Linked DNA regions of Homo sapiens. The protein of the gene in region 2 purifies or fractionates together with the protein of the main gene of each other region. This does not show direct contact. Each region holds a gene or a part of one and is shown on either strand. Other genes may lie near its edges.

The links. The genes of interacting proteins can lie anywhere in the genome.
Region 1: the proteins of EHD1 (region 2) and WARS1 fractionate together in Homo sapiens (co-fractionation; 2 studies listed by BioGRID). This does not show direct contact.

Annotation. Positions count from the first base shown.
Region 1 is NC_000014.9:100,357,791-100,366,642, forward strand, and holds part of WARS1 (tryptophan--tRNA ligase, cytoplasmic), read right to left. Parts: exon of another isoform or gene 8,798-8,852; intron 4,132-8,797; coding exon 3,918-4,131; intron 2,873-3,917; coding exon 2,764-2,872; intron 1-2,763. UniProt on the Homo sapiens protein: Catalyzes the attachment of tryptophan to tRNA(Trp) in a two-step reaction: tryptophan is first activated by ATP to form Trp-AMP and then transferred to the acceptor end of the tRNA(Trp).
Region 2 is NC_000011.10:64,849,290-64,854,621, forward strand, and holds the end of EHD1 (EH domain-containing protein 1), read right to left. Parts: coding exon 5,044-5,332; 3' UTR 2,353-5,043; downstream 1-2,352. UniProt on the Homo sapiens protein: ATP- and membrane-binding protein that controls membrane reorganization/tubulation upon ATP hydrolysis. In vitro causes vesiculation of endocytic membranes. Acts in early endocytic membrane fusion and membrane trafficking of recycling endosomes.

The DNA.
Region 1 (8,852 bases), on a different chromosome or scaffold from region 2:
ACAATCAAAATGAGATTAAGAAAATGCCATTTAGAATAGCATTAAAAAGATAAAATTCTAATGAATAAATCTAAGCAAAGAAGTGCAAAACCTATACACTGAAAATTACAAAACATCAATGAAAGAAATCAAAGAAGTGAAAAGACATCCCATGTTCATGGATTAGATGAATTAATATTTTAAGATGGCAATACTCCACAAATGAATCTACAGATTCAGTGCAATCCCTATCAAAATCCTAGCTGCTGCTTTTGCAGAAATGGAAAAGCTGAAATTCATATGGAAATGCAAGGGGCCCAGAATACCTAAACAATCTTGAAAAAGAACCATGTTTGAGTACTCACATTTTCTTATTTTTTTTTGAGACGGAGTCTCACTGCCACCCAGGCTGGAGTGCAGTGGCGCGATCTCGGCTCACTGCAAGCTCCGCCTCCCGGGTTCATGCCATTCTCCTGCCTCAGCCTCCCGAGTAGCTGGGACTACAGGCGCCCATCACCACACCTGGCTAATTTTTTGTATTTTTAGTAGAGATGGGGTTTCACCGTGTTAGCCAGGATGGTCTCAATCTCCTGACCTCGTGATCCGCCTGCCTTGGCCTCCCAAAGTGCTGGGATTACAGACATGAGCCACTGCGCCCAGCCAAGAATAGTCTTTTCAAAAAACAGTGCTGGGACAATTGGATACCCACAAGCAAAAGAATGAAGTTGGAGCTGTACCTCACAAATATACAAAAATTAACTCAAAAAGGATCAGAAACTGAAATGTAAGAGCTAAAACCACAAAACTCTGAGAAGAAACCATAGGTGTAAATCTTCACAACCTTCGATTAGTCAGTGGTTTCTCAGATATGACACCAAAAACACAATCAATCAAAGATAAAATAAACTGGACTTCATCAAAATTAAAAACTTTCATACTTCAAAGGACTATCAGTAGAGTGAAGAGACAACCTATATAATGGGAGCAAATATTTGCAAGTAATATTTGAATAAGAAACTAGTATCCAGAATATAGAAAGAACTATTATAACTAACAATAAAAAGACAACCCAATTAAAAAGTAGGCAAAGGATCTGAATAGACATTTCTCTAAAGATATAAAAATTGTTAATAAGCACATGAAAAGATTCTCAACATCCTTGTCATTAGGGAAATACAATCAAAACCACAATGAAATACTACTTCACACCTATTAGGATGGCTATAAAACACAACAACATGGAAAATAACAAGAGTGGGTGAAGATGTGGAGAAATGGGAAGCTTCCTATGTTGCTGGTGGGAAAGTAAAATGATACAGTTGCTGTAGAAAAGTCTGTCAGTTCCTCAAAGAGTTAAACATGGAATTACTATATAAGCCATTAATTCTATTTCGAGGTATATGCCCAAGAGAATTGAAAACATATATCCACCCAAAAACTTGTATACAAATGGTCAGAGCAGCATTGTTGATAACCAAAAAGTGAAAATAACTCAAACGTCCATCAACTAATGAATGAATAAACAAAATGTGAGGTATATCCATTCAATGGAATATTATTTGGCAATAAAAAGGAATCCAGTATGGATACATGCTACAACATGGAGGAACCTTGAAAATGTTATGCCAAGTAAAAGAAGCCAGACACAAAAGGCCACATGTTACATGATCCCATTTATATAAAATGCCTAAATCTAGATATAGAGAAAGCAGACTAATGGTTGCCAGTGGGGAGGGAGAAATGGGGGATGACTGTTAACCCATTTATGCCTACCTACTGTTCCAAAATTGGAATGCTAAACTTGTGGGAGTTATTGATATCTTACTGCTCAAGGTGATTGCCAAGGTCTGATTTTTCACAAAAAATTTTTACAACTTCTGGCATAAATGGGTTAATGGGTAGAAGTTTCCTTTTGGGGTGATGAAATGTTTTGGAATTAGATAGTCTTGATGGTCTCACAACCTTGTGAATATACTAAAACCCACTTAACTGTACATTTAAAAAAATAAGTTTTATAGTATGTGAATTAAGGAAAATTTTTTATTATATTCCACCCAGAAAGTGGGTTGAGCAAGGCCTGGAGTTCTTTGCAGGTAGAATTTGAAGTGTTTGGGCAGACTGCTGGGCTCTGTCCTGGGGTTGTTCTCCTGTAAGCGTGAAGTGCCAGTAGAACAGAACAACCCTACATCAGATCATAAATTCCATGGACACAGCTTCAAAAAGGGGGCTGCCTCAGCCCAGATAACTGTAGGTTGGGAGAGGCAGAAACTCTTTTGGAACCTGCCCATATCTTGACGTTATCTGCGTGGAATTTACGGCCTAAGGTACAGATAATCTGTTCCATGCATTCTCTGTTGGTTTGTCTGTTGGTATTGTTTATGAGCAAGTCAATACAATAGGAGGAAGAGGGTTTGGAATTTCAGGAAGCCTACTGTTTGTCATGTGGGAAATGCTGATCTTGGACATATTATTCTCTTTTGTTTTCATGACATTTTATAATTTCTTTACAGCCTGTAATCTGGGAAGAATCTCACCTGCTATTAATATGATTCCCACCTTGTGAGGTGGGCAGTCTACAAATGAAAAAACTAAGAGCCTGAGGGTGATGGACAAGCATGATCCCACAGTGGGTTACTGACAGGACAGAGGATGGATCTCAGTCTTACCACAGCTGGCCATCACTTTTCCCACAGTACCAGGTGGCTTATGAAGAGAGTGTCTTACGATTTTTTTGAACTAAAAGAAGAGGACAGGTGAGAAGGCCTGTGGTGAAGAGCCCCTGACCTGTGTGAGAAGAAGATGCCTCTGCGCAGGAAGTGGTGTGGTCTTTGGCCGGTGGCTCTCTCTATTCGGTTTATTAGCTCTTTGTCAATTTTACTACTTCCAAACCGAACTGGAAAAAAAGAAAAGATGACTTTCTTAGGTGGCAGGAGGTTTAGTGATCAGATATTACTGAAATGAAGATGAAAAGTGAGTGATCCATGCACAATCTTAATGAACACAAACCTCTTTAGGCCTTCTGCTAAAGGTCCTTACCCCCAACATGAAGTAAAAGGTCTTTGGATTAAAACAACAGCTGAGATCAACACAACCAACAAAACAGGAAATAAATTACAACACAAAATGCTGTTTTGCCTGAGACTGGGTTCTGATGGGAAACATATTCAGAATGCAGTCCAGCTAGCAACTTTTGACAACAAAATATAAACATATACATATATAAATAGGTATATATATATATATTTGTTTATTAAGGTAAAATTTATATTCATTGACAACCATGATTTCTCACATTCTTTATTTGTTGAACTGAATTAATGTCGGTCTTCAAGTGAATTTTCCCTCATTGATAGTCTATACTGAAATCATGGAAAATGGCTTTGACTTAGATGAAAACATTTCAGTTCTGTTTCTTCTCTGATAATTAGCAATGATCTCAGAGTAAAGACTTCAATGGAATGGCAACAGTCTTTCCTGAGCAGGAAGGCCCTCAAGGAAGGGCATGACAGTAAGAACTTGCCCGATGTGAGAAGTCACTGCTCTTAAGCTGACTTCCAGCCTTCTAGGTCCATAGTCAGTATCACTGGAGGTGAAACCTAAGTAATCTATGATTGACTTGTAGCCACTAAATGTTATAAATGGCCATTTCAATAGACCTTTCCCAAGTTCTGAAGTGCTCAAAAAAAGGGAAAACCTTCTATTAAGCTGTCTACTATAGATCATTATTTTGAAATATATTTTATATTGTTATTTTATTTTAAAATAATCCTTTGGGAATATAATGCACAACCAAAAGATTTTAGTATCCATTTTTTCTTGGCATTGAAGCTTCACTGAATTTATGATTAATTCAAAATTTAAAAACATCAATGGAATCAACTCAATGGGACCACTTCTAAAAGTTGCAGCTTTTTCTGGGAAGAAAGCAGAGGACGTACCAATGAGCTTATCGTAGTCTATGCCTTTTGCACTGCTTGTCTGTACTGTCCATGGGTCCACAAAATCCTCTTCAGCTTCTGTGGCATCTGGGCCATGATTACTGGTAGGTGCTGGGTTCCCTGGAGGACAGTCAGCCTTGTAATCCTCCCCCGCGGCAGCTTTGTAGCTCATTTTTAATGACACCAACATCTTTACTGCAGAATCAATTTCATCCTGAGAGAGGAAATAAAAGGGATGGCTAAAAGTATTACTAATAGCTGATATGTGCTGAATGCCTATTCTGTGGCAGGCACTGTGTTAAATGCTTTTACACGTGTTACCTTAGTTAGTGTCACAACCCTACAAGGCAGGTATTGTTGTCACTGTCCTTTTCCAGCTCAAGAATCTGAGACTCAGAGAGGTAGAGGAGCTTACCCATAGAATCACAGCAAGTCATTGGCTCGAAAACACTTCATTTTTATCTGTTATTCTAGTGCTACCATGAACACTTTGGGACAGTAGCAGTGACACAATATACACTGTCATTTATGACAAAGTTCATATGCTAAAGATTTCTCAAACACCACTGATGCCAGAGAACGTGTGTGACAAGCTCCTTTAATTGAGATTCCTGGAGTTCTGCATTGGAACTAGTTTTTACATACCACACAGGTTGAGATGAATATTTACGTTAACTTAACCAATGATGCCACTAAGGATAGTAAGAGCAACTAAAACAGATAAAAGCAAGGACAAAAAATGTAGGCTCTCAGGTTATAAATTAAGGAGGGATTCACTGGGAAATAGTTACATCATCACATTTTGGAGTCTTATCAAACTATCTTGAAAAAAAAAAAACAAAGGTAAAATGTACCCTTGGGTAGTCTGGAAATGTATTAAAGACTCTTTTGCAGGAGTCCATAGTGGCCACCCCTGGAAGCCTGGTGTTTAGAAAAGCAGGCCTAATTAAGCTGATTAGTCATGCTATGCCCTAAAGCTCTATTCTGGTAATTGGCCTTGCTGGATTAGATCACAAACAAAGAATATACACAGCCCAATTTGCTTACCAAGGGAAATACAAACATTTCCACTTACAGTTTATACAGAACATTCTTTCTTTTAAATCTCCTTAAATTCCTTTTACCATATACAGAATGTTCTATAAACACCAACCTCCATTCAGAGATAACTATTCCATCAGATATAGCACTTGGGCCATAAAGGACTGTGATTCTGGAGTAATCTGTGTTTCAAACTACAAAATTATCTGAGACTCATCATTAAAATGAGCCAGATTTGTGGAATCAGTAACCCAATGGATACGATTCATAGATGAGATGTTTGCCCAGGTTAGATAGTTAAGTATGTTCCACCCATCTCATTTCTGTAGTACCTAGGCTCAGTACTTGCAAAAAATAACAGTTTAGTACGTATAATCTATCCAATTATCTATGGGAAGGCTTACCTTGCTTTGAAGTACACTGCAGTCAATATCACTTAATAACTAGCTTTGTTGACATTTCATACTCTATCTGGTCTAATTCTGCTTGTAACTAGGAGGCTCTGCGAAAGTCAAACATTTAACCAATGTCCCTGCTCAAGGACCATCTGCATTTTGGAATAGCACCAAAATAAGACAAGCAGGCTTACCTTGTCTATTTTCTTATAATCAGTCTTAATCAGTGTCTGAACCAGGACACTGAAACAGGATTCAAAAGCTGATGTTAGCTGGGTGCAGTGGCTCACACCTGTAATCCCAGCACTTTGGGAGGCCAAGGCGGGCGGATCGCCTGAGCTCATAAGTTCGAGACCACCCTAGGCAACATGGCAAAACCCTGTCTCTACCAAAAATAGAAAAAATTAGCCAGGTGTGGTGGCACACACCTGTGTTCCTAGCTCATCGGGAGGCTGAAGTCAGAGGATTGCTTGAGCCAGGGAGGCAGAGGTTGCAGTGAGCCGAGATTGCACCACTGCACTCCAACCTGGGTGATGAAGTGAGATCCCCACCCCACAAAAAACCCAGAACATCAGTTTTTTTTAGACAGGGTCTCACTTCAGTCTCCTGAGTAGCTGGGACTGCAGGTGTGTGCCACCATGTCTGGCTAATTTTTAAATTTTTTGTAGAGACAGGGTCTCACTATATTATCCAGGCTGGTCCCAAACTCTTGGCCTGAAGCGATCCTCCTGCCTTGGCCTCCTAAGTGCTGGGATTATAGGCATGAGCCACGGAGCCTCGCCAAAAGCTGATGTTCAGAAAAAAAAGCCAGACACAAGACTGTATTACATACAGTTCAAACCCAGGTAGAGCTACCCCTGGTGGGAGGAGTCATGGCAGAGGCTGAGGCGCGTGAGGGTGGCTTCTAGGTGCTCTCTGCTTGCTGTTGATTTGGGTGCTGGTTACACAGGTGTGGTCATTTTGTGAAAATTCAGTGAGGTGCCTGCTTGTGCTTATGATCAGCATGTTTTTCTATATGAATGGTATATTTTGATTTTAGAAGTTACTTAAACAAAAAGGAGAAGAAGAAAAAGGCTCTGCTCTCTTTCTTAATACCTAAGACCTAGCATTGCTTCTTTAGTCCTGCTCAAACTATTTCCCCTCACAGCCCTCAGATGCTGACTTATTTCCCCCTAGGAAACTTGCCGCTTTAATGAGCTGCTGCTACTGAAGGATGTGGATCTTATTCTTTAGATACACTGGAGCAGAAAAGACCTTCAAGGTCCATGGCCTAGATAAATGGCAGGAGAAGAAAGAGCTCAAGGTGCCCTCTCTTAGAACTGGCACTCCCAATGTGGCTCACACTATTTTGCTAAAAGTTAATTTTTAAAATTTCCAAAACATCAAGTGCTTCTACTACCAAGACATTTCAGGGTCAGATACAAATGTACTTCTGAATTTTTCACCACTTAACTCTGGTCTCATTGTGCAACCTCTGATGTCTTCAACGTGTGCCAGCCAATTGCATTAGTCAAATAATACACTTGGAAGAGTTATTATAAAATGTATTAAGTTGACTAAAATAATGAACATAACTGCAGTCACTAAGAATTACTAACTAAAAACATTTACTAAATGTTATTCAAATTTAATATTAAATGGACAAAAATACCACTGTCAACTTCCCAAAATGATGGGCTTACATAACCCCACTGGGTCTTTTATTTATTTTATAATTTTGTTTTAAAACAACTTGGTTTAATCGTTTGAGGCCTACCTGGTGAGTAAATCTCTTTCTGTAAAAAAGTAACTTTTTTTTGACATTACTTTCTTTCAGTACTATTTATTTCATTTAAAATATGAGCTGGGTGCAGTGGCTTGCATCTATAATTCCAGCAACTTGGCAGGCTAAGGTGGGAGCCCAGGAGTTTGAGGGTGCACTGAGCTAGGATTGCACCACTGCACTCCAACGTGGAAAGAGCGAGACCCTGTCTCAAAAAATACACACACACACACACACACACACACACACACACACACAAATAATGATTTAAATCAGGGTCCCAAATAGTCAAAGTAAACTACTGGGGAATGTGAGATGGTTGACACAATCTGGTGACAAGCAAGGTGTTTGAAAAGATAACAGATAACAGGAGTTAAAAGTGTCGGAAGTCGGGCCGGGCGTGGTGGCTCACACCTGTCATCCCAGTACTTTGGGAGGCTGAGGCGGGCGGATCACCTGAGATCAGGAGTTCAAGATTAGCCTGGCCAACATGGCAAGACCCCCTCTCTACTAAAAATACAAAAATTAGCCGGGTGTGGTGGCGGGCGCCTGCAGTCCCAGCTACTTACGAGGCCAGGGCAGGAGAATCGCTCGAACTCAGGAGGCAGAGGTTGTAGTGAGCCAAGACTGTGCCAGTGCACTCCAGCCTGGGCGACAGAGTGAGACTCAGCCTCAAAAAAAAAAAAAAAAAAAAAGTGATGGAAGTCATGGAGAAGCCGGAGTGGAGTCACCCCAGAAGGAAATGAAATGCTTATGTTCTAGTTAAAGATGCGTATTGATGATGATATTTCTGAAATCTACTACAACAAAAGCAGAGATCTTCTTTTTTTTTTTTTTTTTTAAAGCATAATCCCACAAGGACAAAGGAAACAAGAAGAGGATGACAGCAACAAGGTTTCAGAAGCCAGAAAGCTGATGAATGATCAGTGCCTAACAGCATGAGAGAAAAACAAATGCTAAGACATCATGGAAATACTGGAAGGTGACCGAGTGTACACTGTTACGGAATCACCCAAAGGTTCGGGCCTTAGTGACCTTGCGCACTTACAGGAGTGGGGGCAGGAAAGCGGGTTATGAAAACAGGAGCGCTGGTTGAAGTCTCTTCAAGAAGCAGTTATTGAGAATCCCTCTCCCCTCGGCCAAGGGAGTGTCACAGTTTCCCCTCCATTCCAAGGTTTCATGTCAAGAGAGGACAGAGTTACAGGTGCCTAGACTGGGGGCAGTCTGCACAGTTGGGGCACTGGCAGCACACAGAGAATAGGGAGCTTCGGGGAAGGATCCCACAGCCCAGCCCTTCTCTCCCACTCAGCCGTAGAACTCTGGCAGCGGGACTCACCCCCTCTGAACAGTGGACTGGGGGAGCTTTCTCTGGGGAATCTCACTTAACTTTAAAGAAAAGATCTAAAGACCTTGACACGAAAGATTCCCCAACAAAAGGGGAGCAGCCTGGTCACTCTCCAGGAAGTGGAACCTATGTTGATAAGCTCTTCCCCAATGAAGAGTGCATCCAGCAGCTTTCAGTGCACCCCCCAAAACACCAGCAAATAGCCAAGAAACACCAAACAGTTGAGAATTGCCTCTAATATGAAAGGCAGGTAGAAAACAAATTAAGATGGAAGAAACTGAGGTTATAAAGGATGTAGAGGACATATGGAAAACTACCATTAAGATCTCAGAGAGAGAGAGTTGAGTGTCCTGAGAGGTCAGATTGCTGTCAGACATGGCCCATGGACATGG
Region 2 (5,332 bases):
TTCCTCACTCTCTGGACGCTGTCTTTTTGTGTATAATGGAGAACTGCACCTGTTCAGGTGTGAGAGACAAATGAGCTTCCCAGTATGGCCACCAATGGCCGTCCCAACCTTTCTCTGAAGGAGCACGGGCGGCAATGTGATTGGAGCCGGGGAGCTCCCTAAGCCCACCCTTGAGCCTCAGATGCCTGGCTCTTATTTGAAGGTGCGTCTGTTGGGATGGCTTTGGGAAGGAGCTGATGCAAATGCTAGGGGTGTGGACCCCCCAGTCCCCCAGCTAGTCCTGGCAGCCCCCTCCCCAACCCCATCTGCCCAGCACCAGGGGCGTGTCCTATGAAAAGTCCAAAGCTCCAAATGGGTGGACATATGGTGGTTTCATCATCCTGGTTTTTCTTCCAAAAACCTTCCCTGCAGTGTTCCAACAAGCCATAGGGGCTCCCACGCTCTGCAGCGGCTGCAGCCCCATGTGGTTTTACAATTATCAGTCCCTCTGGGTGCACAGGAAGCCAGGCCCGAGCCCACTTGGCCACCACCTCACTAGCCTACAGGCGCCACTGAGTCTGGGAGCTGCTTCAGGGAAGGGAGGGGCTGGCCTGTTTTGTTCTGGGTATTGGGTGAGGTGCCCTGCTCCCTGCACCCCACCCGACTAACCTCCTTGGGGTGCTTGGCAAAGGCCGCTCAAGGTGGGTGTCCTCGGGCTCTGCCTCTGTGGGCCACATCTGTTCCTGAATTAAGGCTTGAGGAAATGGCCTCAGTGGGGGAAGAGATCTGGCTAGAGTGGCAGAGCTGGGAGTTGAACTCAGGGCGGTCTCCCCAAGGCTGCCCTCCACGTGCTGCCAGACCTGGTGCGCTTTTAACACAGGAGTGGTGGCCGGATGTTCTCACCTCCCAACTCTCACCACCTTGCTGGCCGTGGCCGGGCAAGTCCTATGACTAGCCCATTTGATTTATTTTATGTATTTATTTTTGAGACGTAGTCTTGCTCTGACGCCCAGGCTGCAGTGCGATGGTGCGATCTTGGCTCACTGCAAACTCTGCCTCCTGGGTTCAAGCGATTCTTGTGCCTTGGCCTCCCAAGTAGCTGGCATTATAGGCGAGAGCCAGCACATCTGGCTAATTTTTGTATTTTTAGTAGAGACAGGGTTTCACCGTATTGGCCAGGCTGGTCTCAAACTCCTGACCTTATGTGATCCACTCTCCTCGGCCTCTCAAATTGCTGAGATTACAGATGTGAGCCACCGTACCCGGCCATTATTTATTTTTTACTGGTCTATTCTTCTAGAACACCCATTTGAGATAAGAACAGGGCACTGACTGGATTTGTGGTTAACTTCTTTTCTAAGGAGAAGAAATGTTTATTTAAAAAAAATTTTTTTTAAATAGAGACAGTGTCTCACTGTGTTGCCCAGGCTGGAGTACAGTGATGCCATCATAGCTCACTGCAGCCTCAAACTCCCAGGCTCAAGTGAACCTTCCACCTCAGCCTCTCAAGTAGCTGGGACTACCCACAGACACCCATCACCACTCTTGGCTAATTTTTGTTTTGGTAGAGATGGTGTGGGGGCGGGGGGGGGGGCGGGTCTCACTATGTTGCCCAGGCTGGTCTTGAACTCCCGGCCTCACACGACCCCACCTCACCCCCAACCTTGGTCTCCCAAAGTGCTGGGATTATAGGTGTGAACCAAACCCAGCCAGAAATGTTTATTCTGAATGAGATCTTACAAGGAACTGCAACATAGAAAACAGCTGTGCATGGCCAGAGGCAGTGGGCGGGCCCTTTGCCTCTTGGGTCCTGGGCTGTGAGGTGCTGCGTGGGCGACAGATTGCCCTGAAGGCCTCAGTCCACGGGCTCTGGTAGCTGGGTGGCAATGCCCCTCCTTTGCCCCAGGCCAGCCTCTGAAGAGGAGGCTTCTTCCCCAGGGTCATGGCCAGCTATGGATCTAGGGAGGAGGCGAGGGCTGGGACTAGCCCTCTAGGTGGGCGGCCACATCTCTGACCACATCCTCTGGTCCTCCCTGAACCCCGGTCGGAGCCCAAAGATGATCCCCAACCTGTAGAACCGAAACCAGGGCTATGAACTCTGGGGCAGACACCTGCCCTCAGCCCCTTTCAAGCCTCAGATCAGCAGGCGCTTCCTGGGGCAGCCCCAGGGGGTTCACAGCCCCTCTGTGGCCACACAGAGCCCTGCAGGTGGAGTGCTCCGGGAAGGAGAGCGGGCGGCCAGGCAGCACTTCCCTTCCTCCTAGTTCAGGGGCACTGCTAAGTTCTGTGCCTTCTCTAATGTGCTCACAGCTTGAACAAAAATGCTCCACCTCCCTTGGGTGACCCCTGCCCCAAGCTTTCAGGACCCCAGGCTGGAGTGACAGCATTTAACCTTTAATGTGGGTCTCTCAGCCCTGAGTACAGCTGCAGTCTAAGGGTGGGGTTGGGGGGATCTACCGTTTTTTCCTCTTAGTGTGTGCTTTGGATTAGTAACCTGATGGAAAGCACGCTGGAGTTGGACGGCCTGGTTTGCATCTGCTTCTACCACCTTTGTTATTTCGGCAGTCCTCAGTCTCGGACTCTCCCTCTGTGAAATGGGGGAACATGAACTTCCTCAGATCGTGACAGCGCAGCTCCACCTGGCACAGGGTGAATGCCCACAGGTGGCAGCTGAGTGACGCAGGGAGGGCCGGCCAGCCCTGCAGCAACTGAAGCATCCACTGGCACCTCAAGTGCTGGTCATAGGACCAGACACCACCACACCAGCTAGGCTCGGAGCACACAACTGGGTCCCTGAAACCCTCAGGAACTTGTTTCTGTCCTGCCTTCTGCCAGAGGGGCTGGAGCAGCCTCTACCCATGGCACCTCAAGTCTGCACCCTTTTATGAAGGGTCACTAATCAGTCACCCTTCCCTCTGCTGGTATAAACAGTCCCCCATCTGTGACATCACCTGGGCCTGACTGGCCCCACCCTTAGTTGCATGTTTGTCACAGGCTATCTGCTTTGTCTTCAGAGGCCCGGCTTCCCTGTACTTAAACCGTCCTTGGGGCTAGCAAGGAGCCAGTCTGGCTCCAAAGCCCAGAAACCCTTGTTTACTTGATGCCACCCAGTGCCGAGGGCCTGCAGGTGCCCACTCATCCGTCTGTGGCTGAGGGGTGCCAGCCTAGGCCTCAGCTATCAACATCCTCCCAACTGTTTCCCCCCTCCCCACCCCAAGTGAACTGCTCAGCTCCCACCTTGCTCAGGGAAGGGGGCATCACCCCAGAAACCCTTTTCCCTACAGGCCTGGCCCTCTTAGTAGGAGGGGGCAGCTACTGCCCAGCAGAGCAGGACTGGGCAGGGTTGGTCACCTTGCCCCGGCTGCCTTGCCACTCTGTCCCTGCTGGCATCACCCCCTCAGACACCAGGGGAGGATGGCCCAGGACTGCTGCCCCTGGAAAAGACAAGGAAGCACCCGAAGCTTTCGCACAGTTCAGACTTTTTAATGCAAGGAGAAAGTCTTCACTTCTCTTCCCACAGGTGTGAACAAGCCACTGCAACTTCAACAGTGACTTCCCGGCAAGGACAGCGCCCGCATCCATCCTCACCTAATACTGTATGGAGTGACGGGCTAAGGAGAACAAGGCCAGTTCCTGCAGACTCCGAGCAGCGCTGGGGAGAAGCTCCCTGAGACCCCCGCGGGAAAGCCTGGTGGGAAGCCCAGCTGTGTGGTACCTGGTGCTCCACCTGCCTTGGTGCCATCACAGCCCGGACAGTGGCCACTGGCCTGCAAACGCGCCCGGGCCCTGGAGGCTGGGCTCAATGGCCCCAGGCAGAGGAGGGGGAGGCGGCCTGAACTGGCCCGGGCCACTGGGCCGCAAGGTTCTGGTTTCTTATTGCTCAACCTGGGGGCCAGGGGCGTTGTAAGGACATCCAAGTGAGCTGCCCTCCTTTGCTAAACAGAGGAGGAAGGAAGGTAGGAAATGAAGGGGGATTACAGAAGGGGCTGGGTTTTCCCCTGGTCCCCGCTGTCTGGACATGAGAGCCTAGCCAGAACCACGGGCTTCCTCTTACCAGCACCAAGCTGTCGTGAGGCCCCGCCACCGCCACCCACCACCACCTCCCACTGTGGAGGGTGCGTCCCAAAGCTCCAGTTAAGTGAGAGGGTAGGGCAGGAGCTGGGATGACCACCCTTCCTCAGCCAGGAAATGCAACACTGGGGTCCAGGAACGGGGTGCTCCCCGGGTACCCACACCTAATGCCCCCTGGGCAGGGCTGCTCCTTGGCTGGAGGGTGGGAAGGGGAGACAAAAATCACAGCTTTTGAACAGTGGTTGGGAAGTTATTGGGAACTTTGGTCAAGTATGAAAGATATCACTTTACAGAACAGAAACTAGCTTATGTATTTTTCTGGAAGACATTCTCCTACTCCCCTGAACTCCCAAAAAAAGACCAAGGTGGCTGGGCCCTGCTTCTGTGACTGCTGAGCGGGGTTGCGCGTCGGAGCCGGTGGGGCGCGGGAGGAAAGGGCAGGGCCCGCGCACGGGGAGCCTGGGCCCGGGAGGGGAAGGCACAAGAACCCACTTCGCCCGAGAGCACGGGGGAGGCAGAGCCAGGTGAGGAAGGAAGCCACGGTCCCGTGAAGCAACCTCAGCTCAGAAGCACACGGAGGGTGCCTGGTGTTCCTGTCCATGCAGCCTCAGCCTAGCAGCTGCCAAAAGGGCGACCTGGCTCCCCCACGGTCGCAGTCGCTGCACTGTCCAGCTCCAGCCACAGCAAAGGCCGGGGGGCAGAGGCCGTGCACACAGGGCTGGCACACAGGGGAGGCGGCGACAAAGAACGCAGCCTCTAACGTTATATATTAAAATAGCCACAGTTCTTGTGCACACAATTCCATCCTCTCACCCCTGCCTCCCCCGCCAGGCCCAGGAACAGCCTTAAAAGAAAGATGGTGGTTTTCCTTTTCGAGAGGCGAGGAAACATCCGCTCAGTCTTTATGGACCTTGAGAAATGGTGAGGCTTCCCCTCCCCCCGTCTCTGCCTCCCGGCCGGGCGTGCAAATGGCAGGTGCGGGGCCGGGCGCCATCACTCATGTCTGCGCTTGGAGGGCGGCACCAGGTGCGGGGGCAGGTCGGCGGGCAGCTCGTGGCCCTCCAGCTTGACCTTGATGAGGTGGTTGGCCAGCGCGAACTCCTCGTCGTCCAGCAGCCCGTCCTTGTCCACGTCGGCCAGCTTCCAGATCTTCCCTAGCACGGTGTTGGGGAGCTTGGACTTCACCATCTCCTTCTTGGCGTTGGCGCCCGTGATCTTGCCGTTGACAGGGGACAGCGTGTAGAAGATCTCGTCGTAGGTGGGCTTGTCCTTGCCCACCACC